Regions from separate parts of the Homo sapiens genome. Here all the other regions are reported to be linked to region 4. The links are microRNA targets in miRTarBase. Many come from high-throughput screens and were not tested one by one. Region 4 holds a microRNA gene; each other region holds the end of a gene's coding sequence.

Region 1 (3,155 bases), not on the chromosome of region 4:
TTAGAAACTGTTTTCTAGTATTCTAAGTCCTAGTCCTGGCAACCGTGCCCGGCCCTCTACAGTTTACATCCAGTTACCACGCTAGAGGCTCAAGGCAGGCAAGTTTCATAGTCCCCAGTTTTCAGATGAGGAGTTGGGATTGGGATTGGGGTTGGTGCCAAACCTGGAAGATATCAGTCTCTCATTTTTGTTGTTGTTGTTGGTTGCACTTTTCAGAACCAAGAGCCACTGAGAGAGGAAGACTCTGATTTCATCCTGACCGAAGGCGACCTGACATTGACCTACGGGGACAGCACAGTGACTGCAAATGGCTCCTCAAGTTCGCACACCGCCTCCACGAGTCTGGAGGGCAGCCGGAGAACGAAGAGCAGCTCGGAGGAAGTGCTGGAGCGAGACCTGGGAATGGGAGACCAGAAGGTTTCGAGCCGGGGCACCCGCCTAGTGTTTCCCCTGGAAGATAATGCTTGACTTTCCCCCCAAGCCCTGGCGCGATGGGGTAGGCTCCCGATGGGGTGAGGACAGCTGCAAGCCCTAGTGTTGTTGGAGGTGGGGCAGTGACTAGATTGAACTAACTCTTCTATTTTATTGGGGTCTGAAGCTATTGTAACACTTAAAATTTAACTCACAATGCAGATGGTGAGGCAAAAGTGTCTCTAAATTCAGACAAACGTAGACCTATTCCCACTTTTTTCACATAGTAGTGCGCTGTTTCAGAGTTAAACAAACAAAAAAAAATAGCATGCTTTAATGGTCTCCTAATTCATTCACCTGCAGTATCTGAACAAGGCGAGGCAGGTGCTGGGTGGGGGGATTCCTCCCATGAGAGGCTGCATCTCAGTACACAGCAGTGCAAGTCAAGCTGACCATAGAATTATCAAGTTAAAGAGAAGGAAGGCAATTGAGATCGGAACTCCAAGGATTATGGGAAACTTGGTGTTAAATGGGACAGAAAACATGAAAAAGCAATTTGGAGGCTCTGGCAACGAAGTCTGCTTGACTGCAACCTCATATCAGGATTCCTGACTTTATGCTGCCTGTGTTTTTTCTAGACTGAAGATTTGAAAATACATCCACGAACATTTCAACATGGAACGAAGAATTATAGTTCCTTCTCTGGCTATATCCATAAAGAAGTAGTTATGAAATGTTTAAAACCAAAGGCAAATAGTGTTATACTCTTATTTTTTGATTAATCTGAGGAAAGGAGGTATTTAGAAACTGATGATGGTATCACTGCAAAAAGCATTCAACTTTTTTTTTTTGTTGAGATGGTGTTTCACTCTGTCACCCAGGCTGGAGTGCAGTGGCGTGGTCTTGGCTCACTGCAACCTCTGCCTCACGGGTTCAAGTGATTCTCCTGCCTCAGCCTCCTGATTAGCTGGGATTACAGGTGCCCACCACCATGCCCAGCTAATTTTTTGTATTTTTGGTAGAGATGGGGTTTCACCATGTTGCCCAGGCTGGTGTCAAACTCCTGACCTCGTGATCCACCTCCCTTGGCCTCCCAAAGTGCTGGGATTACAGGTGTGAGCCACTGCACCTGGCCAGCATTCAACTTTTGAGGGCTACCATATGAGCTGACAGCCTAGGGAAATAATCACTAGGACTGAAGTATCTACTCTGGGTTTAGAAATAACACCAAATTTTGTAGGATGCTATTATCTGGGAAAGGGAAGGCAGCAAGAAACCTACAAGGCACCAGGCTAGAATTCAGAGGGAAAGAAATCTCAATGCAAAAAAATTACTGCAAAGAAATACAAGATAGTAGTCTCAAGACTAGGTAGAATTCCAAACTTTGAGCCGACGAATGCATGAGATTTCAGTGGCCACCTGAGGAATCAGAGGGCAAACAATGGAACATTAAGTATTTTCAGCCCACTAGAAAGCTCTGTCTTCTATAAGCTTAAGAGTCCGAGTGTCTTTACACCACTGAGTGCCATGCAGAGAAGGGTCATTTTCCTTGTATCTGGGGAGGCTGCTGCACCAGCTTAACATGTGGGTGTGATTTGAAAGTTAGGTTTTCAGTTTGGATTCTTTCTGGATGAGCTGTTCTGTCTGCCCACACCTGTAGTGCTGAAATACAGAAAGACCTCTCGGGAAAAGTTTGAGTTTCTCTTAATGTCTCTGTGCTTCAGTGCTAGCTTATTTTTGGCAACCCAATTTCTAAAAAATGCTTTCAATAACGTGGGCTTTTCTTTTTTTCTTTCTTTCCTTTTTTTTTTTTTTTTTGAGATGGAGTCTCGCTGTGTCACCCAGGCTGGAGTGCAGTGGCGCGATCTCGGCTTACTGCAACCTCCGCCTCCCGGGTTCAAGCGATTCTCTTGCCTCCGCCTCCTGAGTAGCTGGGATTACAGGCACGCGCCACCACGCCTGGCTAATTTTTTGTATTTTTTAGTAGAGACGGGGTTTCACCATACTGGCCAGTTTTTCTTATGATGGAAGACAAAATATTGTGTCCCAGTCTAGTCCACCCGTAGTGAAATCAGTCATTTAATCTTCTCAATTCGCATGTTTAATGCTTAATTTTTAAATAAGACATTGCTTCACAACTTTGTGTTTGAATTGATAATTTGTGCAAATCAGGAAAATACGTATTTAATTAGGTTGAGCCATATGAGTTTGCTGATATTCGACCATTTTGTAAAAACAGGAGTGGCAATTTCATATGGTTCAATAAAATAAAATTGAGACCGGGCACAGTGGCTTATGCCTGTAATCCCAACACTTTGGGAGGCTGAGGCAGGAGGATCACTTGAGCTCAGGAGTTCAAGACCAGACTGGGCAACATGGCAAAACCCTGTCTCTACAGAAATACAAAAATGAGCCAGGCATGATGGCACATGCCTGTAGTTCTAGCTACTTGGGAGGCTGAGGTGGGAGGATTGCTTGAGCCCAAGAGGCAGAGGTTGCGATGAGCTGAGATCATGCCACTGCAATCCAGTCTGGGCAACAGAATGAGACCCTGCCTCAAAAAAAAAAAAAAAATACAGTTGAATGATTTTTATTCTCCTCTTTCCTTTTTATCTACAATAAAGTCCATTTTGATTTTATGGTCATCCATGGGCTTTGGAAGTTTGAAAAATGCTAAACAACCTATCCAAACCCATGAGCCCTCAGGGTCAACTAGGCTAGTGAAGGACTTAAGAATAAGACCT
Region 2 (3,155 bases), not on the chromosome of region 4:
TGATGTAAAATAATGCTGGTTTTACAATAAAATTTTGTAAATCTTTGAAAAATACATCACTAAACTTTCTTTGAAAGTTACTTATATTGCCCAGAACTAAGTCATTAATTTTATGTAATTCTTATCTTTTTATTTTATGCACCAATTAAGAAATAAAACTAAGTTACATGGAGGATTCCACTTTACATTTATATTTTATAATTTATAAAACTGTCATATCTATATATAATAAGGTTGAGGAAGTGATACTGACATTAAAAAAATAACTTCCTGCTGCTGTGAAGAATAATACCAATCTCAATTTTGAAGTCAAATGCTAGTATTTTTTTTTTCTTTTCTAATCTTGGATCTAATATAGAGGAGGTAGATGAAGAGCAAGCAATGCACTTTTCTTCATGATAATACCATGACATTATTAAGCTTATTCCTTTCCCCTTTGAAAAAAAAATTAGAAAGGAAAATGTTGCAAAGAATATGAACAGCTTACTGTACTTGGTCAATGTAGCATTACAATTTGTTTTTTTTTTAATCCTCCGGGAAACTGGTACCACCTGTTCAACCTGAATTCAAGTAGTTACTGTCAATTTTCTCATGGGTGAATGCTGCCTCTTTGTGGCAGAATGCCATGGAAATTGTTCTTTAAACACAAAGTTCATGAACAGCCCTTGATATTGTACAAATTCCAGGTGAAACTATGGGGAGATCCACCTATAGCAATGAAGCACATAATTGAAACATTTCTTATCCTTAAATTGTGTCTAAACTCACTAGAAAACCTTATTCAAAGATGACGAGCTCATATACACCATTTTGAGCATTTAGAATACTGATCAACTTTAGATAAGGAATCCATCATAACTGTTGAAGGTAGTTTTACACAAATTAAAAATATGAAAACTATGGAAAACTGTAGACTGAATAAATAATACTGATATGACAATTACATTGTATTAAGAGAAAAGTGAATATGCGATATATTACTTACCATGCTCCACGTAGTAGATGAATACTTCAGTAAGGAAAGAGTGTATATAATTGAAACTGCATTAATAAACACATTAAGCGACACATTTAGAAAATCATACTTCCCTGAACCAACAAAGGAATAAATTACTTATATATGTCATGTATGTTATATATATATATACTATATATAGTATATATATACTATATACTATATATATACTATATACTATATATATACTATATATACTATATATATACATATATACTATATATACTATATATATACTATATATATACTATATACTATATATATACTATATACTATATATACTATATACTATATATATACTATATACTTTACAATTTTGCTAATTAGGGGAAACACATTTTGTATTAGGAATAAAGTTTAGGAACTATTTCCTAAATTGTTAATGATGGAGATTCTATCAATCACACATAGTTAAGTCTTTTGCACCTTAAGTAATCATTACTTCCATCCCTCATATTTGACATAGTTATCAAGTGTTTATTCAGAAACTATTTAAAAAATTACATGTGCTGGGATACATATGAGACTGTAACAACAGTAGCCCCATCTTACAGATATCCTGTTTGTCATTATCATCATTGCTTGCTGCCCACAGGGATAAAGACATTGTATAGAGACTTGTACAGTCCATGATTTGGTCTTCTGAGGTGCCAGTACACGTGGATCTGTACAAATGCAACTGGGTTTGGTTAAACAATCGAAAATCGGCTACAATAGTAGTCAAATGAACATGTCATTTTGGTTCATTAATAAAAATACTTTCAAATATTTTCTAATAAAACCCAAAACTTGCAAACAATTCTCTCGGAATGGCCCAATCAATTGCCCTATTTTTTAAAATACATTGGGATACAATCAGCTCTGTTTTCTTAAAAGAAAATGCAGATTCAATTGGGTGGGTTGCATTGGCTTTTAAAGATTTAGCCATTAAATTCTCCACATTTTGAATGATTGAAAATGCCTTCCTGATACCACGTCAGTTTTAGAAATGCAGATCCTAATACAGTGTGACACCTCTGCAAAATCATAGGCTAAATAGTGAAGGAAAGAGGAATGCTAAATGTGCATATAAAAATAGGTGCTACAATAAAATATTTGTATATTTCATCAATAAGTTATTTTGACTAATCAATTATGGATCATATAGCTCTGTAATTTTAATGATTTGTCCACATCTATGGTGATCCTTTACAGGATCACAATACTTTTTTTTTAATTCAAATGTCCAGAATGCATACAAACACATCCTTTAAAAACAAAGAAAAGGAATGAGAAGGGAGGGGAGGGGAGGAGAGAAGGAGAGGGGCGGAAAAAGAGAACAAATTTCCTATTAAAGTTGGGGTGTGCTAATTTCTCCACAAAAGCCAGTTAGACCCACCCATGGCTTAAAAGGGGAGAAAGAGAGGTGGGGCAGGGGCGGGGGAGGGGGAGGAAGCAAAAGAGGAAGAGTAGAATCTATGCTCTGCCATCATCCACCATTCTTAGCACTTCCAACCACTACAAAAATGACTGTGACCTTTCACAGGTCACCCGCGCAGCAAATTGGCCTCCTTAAAGCCCTTCTCCACACCTGCCCCACACGCAAGAAGAGAAAGTGATGTGCCCAGTTTACACAAATGTTTCCCACGTGTAAATTTTAAAGGAAATTGCACACCCTTTTCGTATCTTCCACCGAAGCTGAGAAATCCCGTGCCAAGGCACTTCACCCTAAACGTTGAAACAACACAATTAATCAAATGTGTTCACTGTGTGTGTCTGCTTGCTTGTTTGTTTTAAATGCAAAAGCTCCAAGAGAGTTTCTTTGCTTTTAGAACTGGCTAAACGTGGTCTGTTTTTCCAGCACTTCGAGGTAGTCCGGCTCAACGTTTAGTTTTGCTTTTAACTCCAGATATTCGTTCCGGTTGGGTTCTACAAAGACAGCACTCGGGGGGCTGTAGAGCACCGGTTCCCGTAGCCTGCTGTCCCCTGCCCCCGGGTGCAAATACTGATGGGGGCGTCTCAGGTCATAGTTGGGGGAGAAAGTGTAAGCAGCGGGGCTGCACGGGAATTTGGGATATTCCGGGAGGCTATTGCCGGCGGGGGTGGTGGAGCAGTGTTTGTCTGGTTCTAAAATGCCCCTGTAAAAGCGGTCGGCGTCCTG
Region 3 (3,155 bases), not on the chromosome of region 4:
TCTTCAAATATTCTAGGGCTACAGCATGCACTGAGGGCTGAGCAGGGGGAGTAGGAGGGACTCTATCAGGGAAGTCAGTTAAGAGCTGCCCCTGCCTCTCAGGTTCAGAGAAAAAAGAATTGTGAGGCCACATTGTCTGAGCAGGAGATGCTCACCCAGTGCCCTTCCTCCCTTCTAAGCCCTTAGGGTTCCCTCTGTTCAGAACTGTACCAGACAGGAAGAAATCAGCCCAGATTTGGACTGGGTGGGCGCCTGCTGCCCTGTCCCAGGGAGTACATGGTTAGGCTCCTCTCTACTGGGTGGGCGCCCAGACTCAGCCACCTCACAGACCTCTAGGGGTGTTCCTCCAACCTTGTCCACACCCCTAAACATGTCAACATTCCTGAGACCAAAATGGCCGATTCCCCTGAGTCCACCGAAATACAATTTTAAGATGAAAAAGGGGCCTCCCTCATTAATATTTCATCTTCATGACCTTATAATGTTTTGTTTTGTTTTGTTTTGTTTTGTTTAAAAATACCCCTGTCTGATTCAAATGGTTGTCTCTTTGTCTCTGCCCACTTGCTTTTTGCAACAGTGGGCAGAGAGTTGTAAAATGACTGGCTGTTCCCAACTTGATCATTTTTCAGTGATGAAAAGGTATTTTGTTTTCAAGGGAGGTGCCTGTGCATGTTCAGGAATGAAGAAGTGTAAGGATATCAGTGCTTTAGTGCTGGGAAGGTGCGAGCCTGGGTTGGGTCTGGGAGGGGTAGCTAGTATAGCCCAGTGGGTGTATGGGGGGTGGTTAGGGAGAGAATACTACCCAAGAATGTCCAGGGTCCCTCTGTTTGGCCTCTGCACAGTCACTTGACACTCTGCCTTCATCACCCCAGCCCCAGCTCAAACCTTCTCTCCCCCCTCAATGAAATGAGGCCACCGTGAGAAACCGGTCCGGCTTTGCATCTCATTTACATAAATATTTATTAATCGTCATTAAACTGAACAGAAACACGCAATGCACTTCGGGTGTCCGACGGGAGTTTCATCTTCGCTACAAGAGGAAGGTAAAATTGCGTGTGTGTGGGTGAGTGTGTGGGTGTGTCGCCTGTGGGATTGCATTTTTGCATCGTGTATTTGGATGCCTGATCCCCTGCCTCCGGTGGGCAGAGGGTCTCCTTTTGCCCCTTTTTGGGGGAACCTCCAGTAGGAGCCCTCAGACCTCTCCCCGCCCACCCACCAGCTAAAGCCAAGAGGACTCCTTGGACCAAAAAATACTCTCTCCAGACACCGGAAATCGCCAGGTGGCACCCACCGAGGCACAGTCCGGGCAGGGGTGGGGCTGCCCCCAGGTCTCCATCCCCACCCCTCACCCCAGGAGGGGACAGAATGGCCGCGGGGAGGAGGAGCCGGCGAGCTCACCTCCTTCTGCCCCCCGGACGCCGGCGCCGGGCCTGCTTGTGCGTGCGGTGTGGTGTGCGTGTGTCTTTCATGCAAACCCTCCCTCCCCAAACCGACCCCCCAACAGTTTGCCATTCCATACAAATTTGGAAACAGGTTTTTAAAAAACAGCATGACGCACAACGGGGACGGGGCGGGGGAGGGCAGTGGCACTGGGGCCCCAAATCTCCGAGTCACTGATTGTAAGAACCTGGGGAGGGGGAGGGGGCGGCGCGGGCCCCCACTTCACCAAAGTGCACAGATCCGCGCTCGGGCGGGGCGGCCCGCAGGCCGGGCGGGGCATCCCGGGGCCGGGCCGGGCCGCGAGGCTCAGTGGAGCCTCCTTGCATAGATATTTGTGTCTTTGATTATTGGTAGTAGTGGTTTTTTTTTGTTTGTTTTTTTGTTTTTTGTTTTTTTTGCCTTTTATTGCTTCTAAAAGTCCTTACTGCGTTTTCTCTCCGATCCGGACTCTGCGTTCGGCTTCCGTCGCCTCTTAGCTTTTTTTTTTTTTTTTTTTTTTTTTTTTTTTTTTTTTTTTGTATGTTTGTTTGTTTAAAAAAAGGAAAAGGGAAAAACGGATTCTAGTTACAAATTGTCTTGGCCTCTCTCTTTCCTCTCAATCCACTTCCCCTCCCGCCAAAATTAAAATCGCAAAACGCGGAGACTGGAGGTTGGGGGTGAGGGCGTTCCAGGCCCGGGCTCCGGCGCCCTAACTTCTACCCTCTTCAAGAAAGAGGGAGCGCCTGGCTCCTTTTTGCCTCGGCAGCTGGGTGTCTGTTTTTAAAATAATAATGAGAGGGGGAAACGCGTTCCATTGCTCAGCTGCCCCCTTACCAACGCCTTGGGCCTGCAGGGAGGAGGGGGAGGAGGAAACCTCAGCGAAGATATTGGGAATGGGGGAGGGGTGCCTCCAGGGAGCCCCCGGAGAGAGGTCCCTGGAGAAGCACTCCTTGGGAGAGAGGAGGAGGGAACCCCTTGGGGAGAGAGAAGGCGAGTCCCCTGGGGGAAGCGAGGCCCCTGGGACAGGCCACCCACAGGTAACAGGACTGCGCTGCCCCAGGAGAGCGGCAGGACCGGTGGCCCGCTCCCCGCGCCCGGCGCCGGGGTAGGATGGGGGTGTCCCTGCGCTCTGGGGGCTGGGGACAGGGGGGCGGGCAAAGGCAAAAGAAAAAGAAGGGAGCCGGCGCGAAGTCTCAGTTATGAAAAAACGCATTGAGCTCCTCGTACATGGGGCCCCGGTCGTGGTGAAGGTGCATATCGTAAGACAAGAGATTCTCCGAGTGGACGCCCCCGCGCACAGCCGACGAGCCGAAGACTAGCCCGTGGCCCGTGGGCCGCGAACCGGGCAGCGCCGAGTAGTGCATAGAGTAGTGGTAGCTTTTCTCGTGGTCGGGCGAGGAGTCCTGCTTGAGTGAGAAGTTGCCATTGAGACAGAGCGGGGGGCTGAGCGGGCCCTCGTACTCGGAGCTGTTGTAGTCCGGGCTCGCGCCGCCACCGCCTGCCGCCGCATACAGCGTCTCGTAGGCGGCGCAGTAGCCGTGGGTCCGCAGGGCGTGCGCCGCGCCGCCGCCCAGGCCGCCGGCCGCCTGGCACTGTGCGCCCGCCAGGCGCGAGCACGGGTACGGGTAGGGGTGCATGGCGAACGGGCCGCCCGAGCCGTGGAAGCGGCCGGCACCGTCGGCGCCTTGCTCCGTGAGGAAGTTGCGAGAGTTGAGCTGCAGACAGCCGGCCACCAG
Region 4 (3,155 bases):
TGTCTACCTATTAAGCTAGGTTGCAATTTGTCCACAAGGACTCAACTATAGAAGTACGAAGTCCCACTCAGGCCATATTTAGTTCACTTTAACACTAGCTTCGGCAACTGTCTCTCAGAGCCCAGGGCAGGGCAGGGATGCAACTGGGCTTCAGGAAACTTGAATTCATTGACTGTCTCTTCCCCATCTTAGATGCAGTGCTAAGGGCTTTTTAGTAATTTTCTCATTTGACTCTCAAAACAAACTGATGAGGAAACGGTCTGAGAGTAGTTAGGCAGCTTTTCAAGGTCACACAGATAGTAAATGTCATCACTGGGACTTGAACTCAGGTCTTTCTGACTCTCATGTCTGTGCAACATGTCATCTCAGCCACTGTTGACACTGTATATGTGGATTAGGGTTGGCTAAACTGCTGTAACAAATAGACCCAACTCGAATGGTGCATGTATGTACAATAGGGGTTTATTTCTTATGATATAGTTCACGGTGGTCCCAGGTGAATAAGGATGGGTAGGTCTGCATTTTTCATAATCATCTGGATTTCTGCTCAGGCTCCTAGAGTCTCTGCCACCTTCCCCATGTGGCTTCCAAGGCCACCTTGGAGACAGAGCTTGGTGGAGCACATGTGGTAGGATTTTTTTTGTTTTTTTGAGACGGAGTCTCACTGTATTGCCCAGTCTGGAGTGCAGTGGTGCAATCTCGGCTCACTGCAACCTCTGCCTCCCAGGTTCAAGCTATTCTCCTGTCTCAGCCTCCCTAGTAGCTGGGACTACAGGCACCTGCCACCACGCCTGGCTAATTTTTGTATTTTTAGTAGAAATGGGATTTCACCTTGTTGGTCAGGTTGGTCTCAAACTCCTGACCTCAGGTGATCCACCCACCTCGGCCTCCCAAAGTGCTGGGATTACAGGCATGAGCCACCACTCCCAGCCAGTTCTTTTTTTCTTTTTTCCATTTTTTTTTTTTCGAGACAGGGTCTTACTCTGTTGCCCAGGCTGGAGTGCAGTGGCACAATCACGGCTCAGCGCAGCCACTGCCTCCTGGGCTCACACGCTCCTCCGGCCTCAGCCTCTCGAGTACCTGGGACTACAAGTGTGAGCCAGTTTGGCTAATTTTGGCTAATTTTTGTAGAAACGGGGTCTCGCCATGTTGGCCAGGCTGGTCTCCAACTCCTGGGCTCAAGGGATCCACCTTCCTCCCCCTCTCAAAGTTCTGGGATTACCGGAGTGACCCACTGTGCCCTGCTGGCAAATTTCTTAAACTGTGCCTCAGTGACCTCATTTAATAAAGGGAATAATTGTAGCACACTTTTTCTAGAGCTGTGAAGATTCAATGGAATAAATAAGGCAATAAATGAATGGATGGGGAATGAAGGATGTGGGTTTCCTCCCTCTTGTCTTTCAATAAGCTCTCACCATCAACCTCCCATTGCCTGTTCTCTCTCTTCCCCCTCTCTCCCTCTGTCTCTCTCTTAGCCAGGAAACCTGGGGTAGGGAGGCTTGGAGCCAGCGGGTGCGTCGGGAGGCTGCGGGTACTGACTGGGGACGCGCACGGAGATTGCGGGAGAAGGATCCACGCCGCGGGAGAAGGATCCATGCCGCGGGAGAAGGATCAGAGTGGAGCCTGTGGCTGCTGCAGGAGGAGGAAGCCGCCGCCTGGCCCACACCACAGGAGAAGGGCGGAGCCAGATGGCACCCTGCCCACCGCTTCCCGCCCACGCACTTTAGCCTGCAGAGGGGCGGAGCGTGAAAAATACCTCGTGCGCCTCGGCCGACTCTACAGTGCGACGGGCGGAGCTTCCAGACGCTCCGCCCCACGTCGCATGCGCCCCGGGAAAGCGTGGGGCGGAGCTTCCGGAGGCCCCGCCCTGCTGCCGACCCTGTGGAGCGGAGGGTGAAGCCTCCGGATGCCAGTCCCTCATCGCTGGCCCGGTCGCGCTGTGGCGAAGGGGGCGGAGCCTGCACCCGCCCCGCCCCCCCTCGCCCCGTCCGCCCTGCGCCGCGCGGGGAGGAGGAGGAGGAGCCGCGGCGGGGCCCGCACTGCAGCGCCAACGTCCGAGCGGGCGGCCGAGCTCCCGGAGCGGCCTGGCCCCGAGCCCCGAGCGGGCGTCGCTCAGCAGCAGGTCGCGGCCGCAGCCCCATCCAGCCCCGCGCCCGCCATGCCGTCCGCCGGCCCCGCCTGAGCCGCGGCCTCCGCGCGCGGGCGGGCCTGGGGACGGCGGGGCCATGCGCGCGCTGCCCTAACGATGCCGCCCGCCGCGCCCGCCCGCCTGGCGCTGGCCCTGGGCCTGGGCCTGTGGCTCGGGGCGCTGGCGGGGGGCCCCGGGCGCGGCTGCGGGCCTTGCGAGCCCCCCTGCCTCTGCGGCCTAGCGCCCGGCGCCGCCTGCCGCGTCAACTGCTCGGGCCGCGGGCCGCGGGCTGCGGACGCTCGGTCCCGCGCTGCGCATCCCCGCGGACGCCACAGCGCTGTGAGTAGCGGGCCCAGCGGCACCCGGGAGAGGCCGCGGGACGGGCGGGCGTGGGCGCGTTCCCTGGCCCGGGACGGGAAGCAGGACGCGGGCCAGGACGCTCCCAGGGCGAGGCTCCGGCGCGGCACAGCGGCCCTGCTAAATAAGGAACGCCTGGAGCCGCGGTTGGCACGGCCCCGGGGAGCCGAAAAACCCCGGGTCTGGAGACAGACGTCCCCACCCGGGGGCTCTGCGGACGCCAGCGGGGGCGGGGCGCGGAGGCCGCGCTCAGCTGGGAGGACAAACAGTCGCTAATTGGAGAGGAATTGGGATTCGGCCTGGGGCTGCGGGGTACCCGGAGAGATGGGGATGGCTGTAGGGGGCTGCAGGGAAGAGTTCCAGGAGGTGTCTGGACAAGGATTTGATGGATGTGCAAGAATTGGGCTGATGCTTAGGAAGGGGCGATGAGGTGGGTCCAGAAGAAGGGGGGTGAACGGTGTGAGCAAAGACCGTGAGGCTGGAGGCTGGCCACGGGAGGTGTGAGGGGTAGGGGCAGGGTGGGAGGTGGGCTCGCGGGTGGGCTGGGGTCATGAAGGGCCTCAGGCGCTCTGCTATTGGGTTCCAAGGCTATCCTGAGAACAGGGGTGAGGGCGGATTGCCGTGGGGGGTTAAAGCCTTGTCATGTTCGCTTTCGGGAGATAAAAACAAC
Region 5 (3,000 bases), not on the chromosome of region 4:
TTTTCAGATGGTTATCTTGTTTGTTTGCTGGCTTGAGTATTCAACAAAGTTAATTATTCAATAACAAGTGGAAAATAAATGCTGAGAGCTGCTGTTTGTTTCAGGTAGGGACGTCTGGCTTGGCATCCCTTTTGTAGAGGCTTCCAACCAACACATAAAATTGTGGATTGGGGTTTCTTGCTAGATTATGAATTATAACTAGTGCCTGTGATAGCTAAAGTTAAAATGTAACTTTAGGACTGGAATAAACCAGACCTTTGGTTTTAGTCTGCAGACACACAGCAACTAGAAAAGATGGCGTGACTGCGGATGGGAGTGGGTGGGGGAGTCAACAGAATGCAGTGTGAACTAACCTTTCAGTTCCCTTTAAACCCACGTTTCAGAAATATGCCGAGCGCCAGTCCAGCAAACCCGAAGTACGTGATGGAATGGAACTTGTTCCTCAGCCAGAAGATAGCACAGCCATCTGCCAGTGCCACAGGAAAAAGCCTTCAAGAGAAGAACTTTGAGTCAGCCCAGAATCACACTCCTGTGTATCCCGGCTACACTTTAAGGAAAGATTGAATCTAAGCTGTGAAGGACAGTATAGAAGACTGCACCAAGTGGACTAGTTCTCCCGGTGGCTTTATATATGTAGATGGATATAGCAGTACTGGTTGAGTATCCCTCATCTGAAATGCTTAGGACCAGGAGTGTTTCAGGCTTCAGATTTTTTAAGATTTGGGAATATTTGCATGTACATAATGAGGTATCTTGGGGATGAGATCCAAGTCTAAACACAAAATTCATTTATATTTTATATATACCTTGTTCACATACCCTGAAGGTAATTTTATATAATATTTTTAATAATTTGTGCATGAAACAAAGTTTGTATACATTGAACTGTCAGAAAGCAAAGGTGTCACTATCTTAGCGACCCAAGTGGTGGTGTCAGCACTCAAAAAGTTTTGGATTTTGGGGTATTTCAGATTTTAGATTTTTGTATGAGGAATGTTCAACCTGTATTTGAACAAGCATTACCAAATATCATTGAATATTAATATCTTTTGCGTAAAAACTGCTATTATCAGCATCATAGTTTCTCTAAAAAGAAAACTTGGGGATCATAGCCGATAGAGAGACTTGCTAAAATATAAATCAGCCTCTGCAAAACTGTTTACATATTTATTGGTTTACATATTTTATTGGTTTATTTCTATCCCCTGTTCACTTTTTCTCTTCCACTTCCAATTATGAAGAGAAAATATTTGTTCAGGGTTGTCCCCCCGCCCCCCGTCACTGCATAATTTCTCCTCTTACAAGCTGCTTTTGGCTTTCATTAATAACAGCTTCCTTTTAGAAGGTCTGATAAGGATATTTAAGGAAGAAGAGAATGACTCTGTTATTAAAGGTGGCATGGAGACTGTGGAGGGAATATTTTTTAAAGCACTACTCATATCCTTTAAACTAAATTTTGCCAAAGCCCGAGACAACATTAAGGAGAAATTGTACCTTAAGTTAGTAATTCCAAATCTATCTGAGTTGTATACCCATCAAAGACAATACAGTTATTAACATAGATGAAGGTATGCTATAGGCATCATTCATTATCTCTATATTGAATAGGTGAAAGATAACTGTAGTCAGGTGAAAGGCATTCATTATTTTTAAGCTGAAAAGGGGATCCTTGAAAACACTGAAAACCTCTACAACAATCTTCAGGAAGCCTGCTATCTTGGGATTCACTAATAATAGGCCAAGAACAAAGGCAAGCATCCATTCCTCACTCCACCACTTTTCTATTTCAGTGGGTGTCGTTGCTACGATGAAGACTTTGGAAATTTCCTTTCTCTTTTAGGACAGGGTCAGGATTTAGGACTCATAGCCTGAAAGCTCATTACATACTCCTTGTAACCATCAGTCCAAGGTTCAGTTCACTAAAGTGCATGTTCTAAAACAAGAGCTATCCTCATTCCAAATTTTAAAATATGTACTCTGGCCGGTTGCAGTGGCTCACGCCTGTAATCCCAGCACTTTGGCAGGCCGAGATGGGCGGATCTTTTGAGGTCAGGAGTTTGAGACCAGCCTGGCCAACATGGTGAAACCCCGTCTCTACTAAAAATACAAAAATTAGCCAGGCATGGTGGCATTTGCCTGTAATCCCAGCTACTCGGGAGGCTGAGGCAGGAGAATCACTTGAACCTGGGAGGCAGAGGTTGCAGTGAGCTGAGATTACACCACTGCACTCCAGCCTGGGTGACAGAGTGAGACTCCATCTCAAAAACTGAAAATAAAAATAAAAATATGTATTCTCCTAACTGAAATATTTACTTAATCTGGAAAACAATGTAACTATTTTTAAAGTGGTTACATCTATTCTTGCTGAAGAACAATAAACAGAATTTTTTGACTAAGCATAACCAAATTTCAGAACAGTCTAATCAATGCCAAGTATCCAAGGCAAACTCTAATACCCATCCATTGTGCAAAACCACAAGCACGCAAGTATTAAATAAGAGCAAGCTGTCCTGAGCCCATACCTAATGAATTTGTGTCTTAAATATTGTACATTGTGTTTGAGGCTTGTCAAAACTGGGATTATGGCAAGAAAGGTTGCCTAACTCATACCTTTCTGCCTCAAATTCCAGGTGCTAAAGGCTAATGGCATTTTAAACATCTTACATTTTTAAAAATTTATATTGCCTCTGCCAAACAGGCCTAATAGTTAAAAGCAAGTTGAGACAAACCAGGCAGATTCAGTGTGTGGAACAGGAAGGATGTGCTTTAAAAAAAGGTGGAATCCCTCAAAAAATTCTATAGGGAGACAGCAGCCTTAATCTACATAATTCTTCATCTCGCCAATTCAGCCGCAGCCTTTAAAGAGTTAGTGTTAATGGCTTTCTGGTTTGAAAACAAAAATGCATCTATGTGGTTGAAAGTTTGGGAGGAGATTCACCAATATCTGAGGAGAAGATGGAGTGAAGGGAATTCTTACTTTTTGCTTTATACCTTTCTATA
Region 6 (3,000 bases), not on the chromosome of region 4:
TACTCTCTTGGCTGTCCTGGGACTCCTACAGGGCTTGAACATTTTGTATCAATTTCTGTTTTGAAGGTGCTGGGACTCTGGTGCCCCCAACCCTGGGCATCCTCAGGCTTTGAGGAGAATACACAGGATTTGAAGTCAGAAGACCTAGGTTTGAGTTCTGGCTGAGCCACGCACTGTTCATGTGACCTTGGACAAATCACCAAATTTTTCTGAACAGCATCTGTAAAGTGACAGTAACCCCTACCTCACAGGGTTGTTGTGAGGATTACATATATGCTAAAGCATTTTGCATATGAAAAAGCTTCTTATGAATATTGTTATTCCTAGGCAAACCCCCCTTGGAAGCTGTCAAAAAGGACAACTGTAGATGAAATTGTCTTCCTTTTTTCTTCATTCAGCTTAGCCTTTCTGTTTGGCCAGGGCTACTTACAGGGGCTGTTGGGGTTGAAGTCAAGTCACCGCATTTTGGCTCCTTTGGTCAAAGAGAAAGAACTCTAATGTCCAGCTGCTCCATCGATATACTCATAGAATGGAAGTGAGCAAAGGAAAATTTTAAGCCAGGATAGTTAACCGTTAGGGGGCCAGTGGGAGAATGCTTGCCTTGCATTTGCACATCCAGAATGACTAAAACATCTTAAGTAAATGAGGAATAGCCACCGAGATGCTCAGAGATAATATAAGCCATGAGTGGGAAGTGGGAAAATGAGTTTGTCAACGCCCTCTCTTTTCTATCCCTTTACCTTTGAGGTCAGGGACAGGGCATATTACTGACACCCCACTGGCTATTGCCCTATACCTGCCAATCACCCAAAGAAAATAATAGCTTCTGAGAAAGCTCAATTCACTGTAGCAACTGTGATATATTTACCCTAATAAAGCCACCACTTGGTCTTTTCCAGTGCTTCTCTCTTATGGAGATCATCCCTGGAATCCAAAGCTCTCCAGTTTTCTAACCCAGTTAAGAGTTAAAAACAACCACAGGTCATGAGCAGTAGGCTTGGCAGTTATACCCCATGCAGTCATAGGAGACTGCTCCATCATTCTCAGCACATAGGGTGCACATCTCACTATCTCTGGCATGAACCAGCCTTGCGAACTTATACAGTCTCAGCCACTCTGCTTTGATGGTAATTCTTCACCACTGATCTCTCCTCACCATGCCCTTCCTGCATCCTTCCCCCAACCACCCACCAGAGGAGTTCTGGTCCCCAAACCAAAGAGTTGCCTGCAGGTTGGTAATGTGACTTTGTAGATATTCCTTGATTAAAGCCAGACCCTATTGGTATCCTTTTTGAAGTACTGGATCGAAATCTAATTGCTTTTTTTTTTAATTGTTGGGGAGAGGAGGATGAGCAGAACTCCTATGCAGCCTGAGAGAAGTTCTCTATGTGTCTGTATATGTACACCTCTGTGTGTGTGTGTGTAACCTCATGGTTGTGCTCAGGCTGACAGGGAGGGCAAAGAGTGAAAAGGAAGCATCTCTTTCTTGTTATCCAACATTGCTTCAAAGATGCCCAACCCCCGTAGTAGCAGGCAGTTCCCAAGTGGAGGGTCGGGGCAGAGGCCTCCACCAAGGCCATCAATAACCAGGTGTGAGCTACAGGTCTCTGTGTAATGTGAAGCTCTCCCGTATTTCATTTCTGCACCCAGGGGGCGGCTCTGCAGGATTGCTTACGGAGAACTCTGTGTCTGGCACCTCTCTCCACAAGGCCCAGGCGCCCAGGGTCCCACCGACCTGCCCAGGAATGCATCACATTGTTCTCTGGTGCTGTAATTTGGCTGCAGGAGCTAGGCTGAATGCCTCCCAGGGATGAGAAACATACTCTCCCTGGCGTCCTCCCTTCGCCCCAGCTAGCTTGAGCTTCTGCCCTATGACCACTGAGTGCATTTAAATAAAAACCTCAGAAAGACTGAGGAAAAAAAAATCCTAATTATCTCTCTTCTGTTAAGCCATGTAGAGACTCGTGTCCTGAGTGGGTCTGAGAATTTGGCAAAGACTTACTGGTTGGTGTTCTTGATAAGGGAAGTGAGACAAAGGAGAAGAAATTACTCCCTGCAACAGGAGGAATAGAAATGAAGCAGTGAGTGTTCAGAAATTAGATCTACAAGAAGTTTTGCAAACAGACCCTCAGGGCCAGGCAATGTTTGTTTTTGTTTTTTGTTTTTTGTTTTTTTTTTTAATCTGAAGCCCCTGATTTTATTTTTCCAGCATCACTCTAAGGAAGAGTGTGGATTAGTGCCATTATTCAGGGCTGGTATTAATAAAAGTTAGCTTTTATCTGCAGGGCTAGGTTAAGGCTGGCATTCTTACTTTTACATTAAAAAAACTGGCTACAGGCTGCGCAGCTGAGGTACTTCAGTCATGTGCCTTCTCTAAAGGATTCTTAGATCCTTAAAATATATAGTATGTTTTAAGTTTGTATCTAAATAGCACTTACTGTAATGTATTATACCTAAATGTTTATTAAAAGTTAGAAGAAATGAGTACCAACAGGAAGGAATGGAAGAGAGGAGAGGGGCTAAGACATTGCTGATCTGAGGGACAGACCTCTATCAAATAGAAGAGGGCTGGGAGAAGGGGTGATTAGAAGCAGAGTGAGGGAACTAAATGGAGCCCTGACTGCACCAAATAAAGTTCTCATTTTGCTGCTTGTTCCAAATAAATTAGTGTCTATTTGTGTAATGCAGACTAAATGCCAGTTGTGTAAAGCCAATCAATGCAGAAGCAAGCTAAGAACTAGGAGGAAAAATTAATTGCTTGGCCATCATTCCTTTTGGGACCACATAACCTCCGTGGTGGGGCTCAAATGGACATCATTTCTCTCTTATGCACCTCTCTTTTCAAACTTCTCACTCTCTGGACAGCTTGCTCTTTTCTTAACCATTTATAGGAAATTGCAAAACTTGCATCTTTATGAGCTAGAATTTGGAGCCCAAGGAAAAGCACAGAGTAGCATGAGATGCCAGAAGAGGCCCATTTCCTTCCACAGGGATGAGAAC

What was found. Region 4 holds the annotated microRNA hsa-miR-3180-3p (UGGGGCGGAGCUUCCGGAGGCC, at 1,841-1,862, shown strand). A microRNA usually pairs through its seed, bases 2 to 8, with sites in the 3' UTR of a target mRNA and lowers its output. Matches are read on the target gene's strand: a 7mer-m8 pairs with bases 2 to 8, a 7mer-A1 pairs with bases 2 to 7 and ends in A, and an 8mer does both.
Region 1: the mRNA of SLC9A7 is a reported target of hsa-miR-3180-3p. The part of its 3' UTR that is shown has no 7-base or 8-base seed match.
Region 2: the mRNA of SLITRK5 is a reported target of hsa-miR-3180-3p. Seed matches in the 3' UTR shown: 7mer-m8 at 2,429-2,435 and 7mer-m8 at 2,318-2,324.
Region 3: miRTarBase lists NEUROD2 as a target of hsa-miR-3180-3p. Seed matches in the 3' UTR shown: 7mer-m8 at 2,567-2,573, 7mer-m8 at 1,693-1,699, 7mer-m8 at 1,642-1,648 and 7mer-m8 at 1,568-1,574.
Region 5: miRTarBase lists POGLUT3 as a target of hsa-miR-3180-3p. Seed matches in the 3' UTR shown: 7mer-m8 at 1,269-1,275.
Region 6: miRTarBase lists ST7L as a target of hsa-miR-3180-3p. Seed matches in the 3' UTR shown: 7mer-A1 at 1,844-1,850.

What each region holds. Positions count from the first base shown.
Region 1 is chrX:46,604,265-46,607,419 of GRCh38, reverse strand. SLC9A7 (solute carrier family 9 member A7) reads left to right here. Exons shown (of 17, transcript NM_001257291.2): 17 at 217-3,155. The coding sequence ends at 468. Among named protein-coding and RNA genes, the nearest start is that of CHST7, 32 kb to the right of the region's middle.
Region 2 is chr13:87,677,933-87,681,087 of GRCh38, reverse strand. It overlaps SLITRK5 (SLIT and NTRK like family member 5), which reads right to left. Exons shown (of 2, transcript NM_001384609.1): 2 at 1,472-3,155. The coding sequence ends at 2,823. LOC112268106 (a long non-coding RNA gene) reads right to left here and starts at 1,148. Exons shown (of 3, transcript XR_002957486.2): 1 at 986-1,148.
Region 3 is chr17:39,602,839-39,605,993 of GRCh38, forward strand. NEUROD2 (neuronal differentiation 2) reads right to left here. Exons shown (of 2, transcript NM_006160.4): 2 at 930-3,155. The coding sequence ends at 2,613. Among named protein-coding and RNA genes, the nearest start is that of NEUROD2, 3.5 kb to the right of the region's middle.
Region 4 is chr16:16,308,096-16,311,250 of GRCh38, forward strand. MIR3180-2 (microRNA 3180-2) reads left to right here and starts at 1,784; the gene lies at 1,784-1,871. The region is part of intron 1 of LOC105371099 (a long non-coding RNA gene); the gene reads right to left. It also overlaps the pseudogene LOC131696449 and the pseudogene PKD1P1.
Region 5 is chr11:108,472,336-108,475,335 of GRCh38, reverse strand. It overlaps POGLUT3 (protein O-glucosyltransferase 3), which reads left to right. Exons shown (of 8, transcript NM_153705.5): 8 at 384-3,000. The coding sequence ends at 509. Among named protein-coding and RNA genes, the nearest start is that of C11orf65, 6.3 kb to the right of the region's middle. RefSeq lists a cis regulatory region at 1,799 and an enhancer at 1,727-1,871.
Region 6 is chr1:112,523,178-112,526,177 of GRCh38, reverse strand. ST7L (suppression of tumorigenicity 7 like) reads left to right here. Exons shown (of 15, transcript NM_017744.5): 15 at 67-2,664. The coding sequence ends at 165. WNT2B (Wnt family member 2B) reads right to left here. Exons shown (of 5, transcript NM_024494.3): 5 at 1-3,000. Among named protein-coding and RNA genes, the nearest start is that of WNT2B, 16 kb to the right of the region's middle.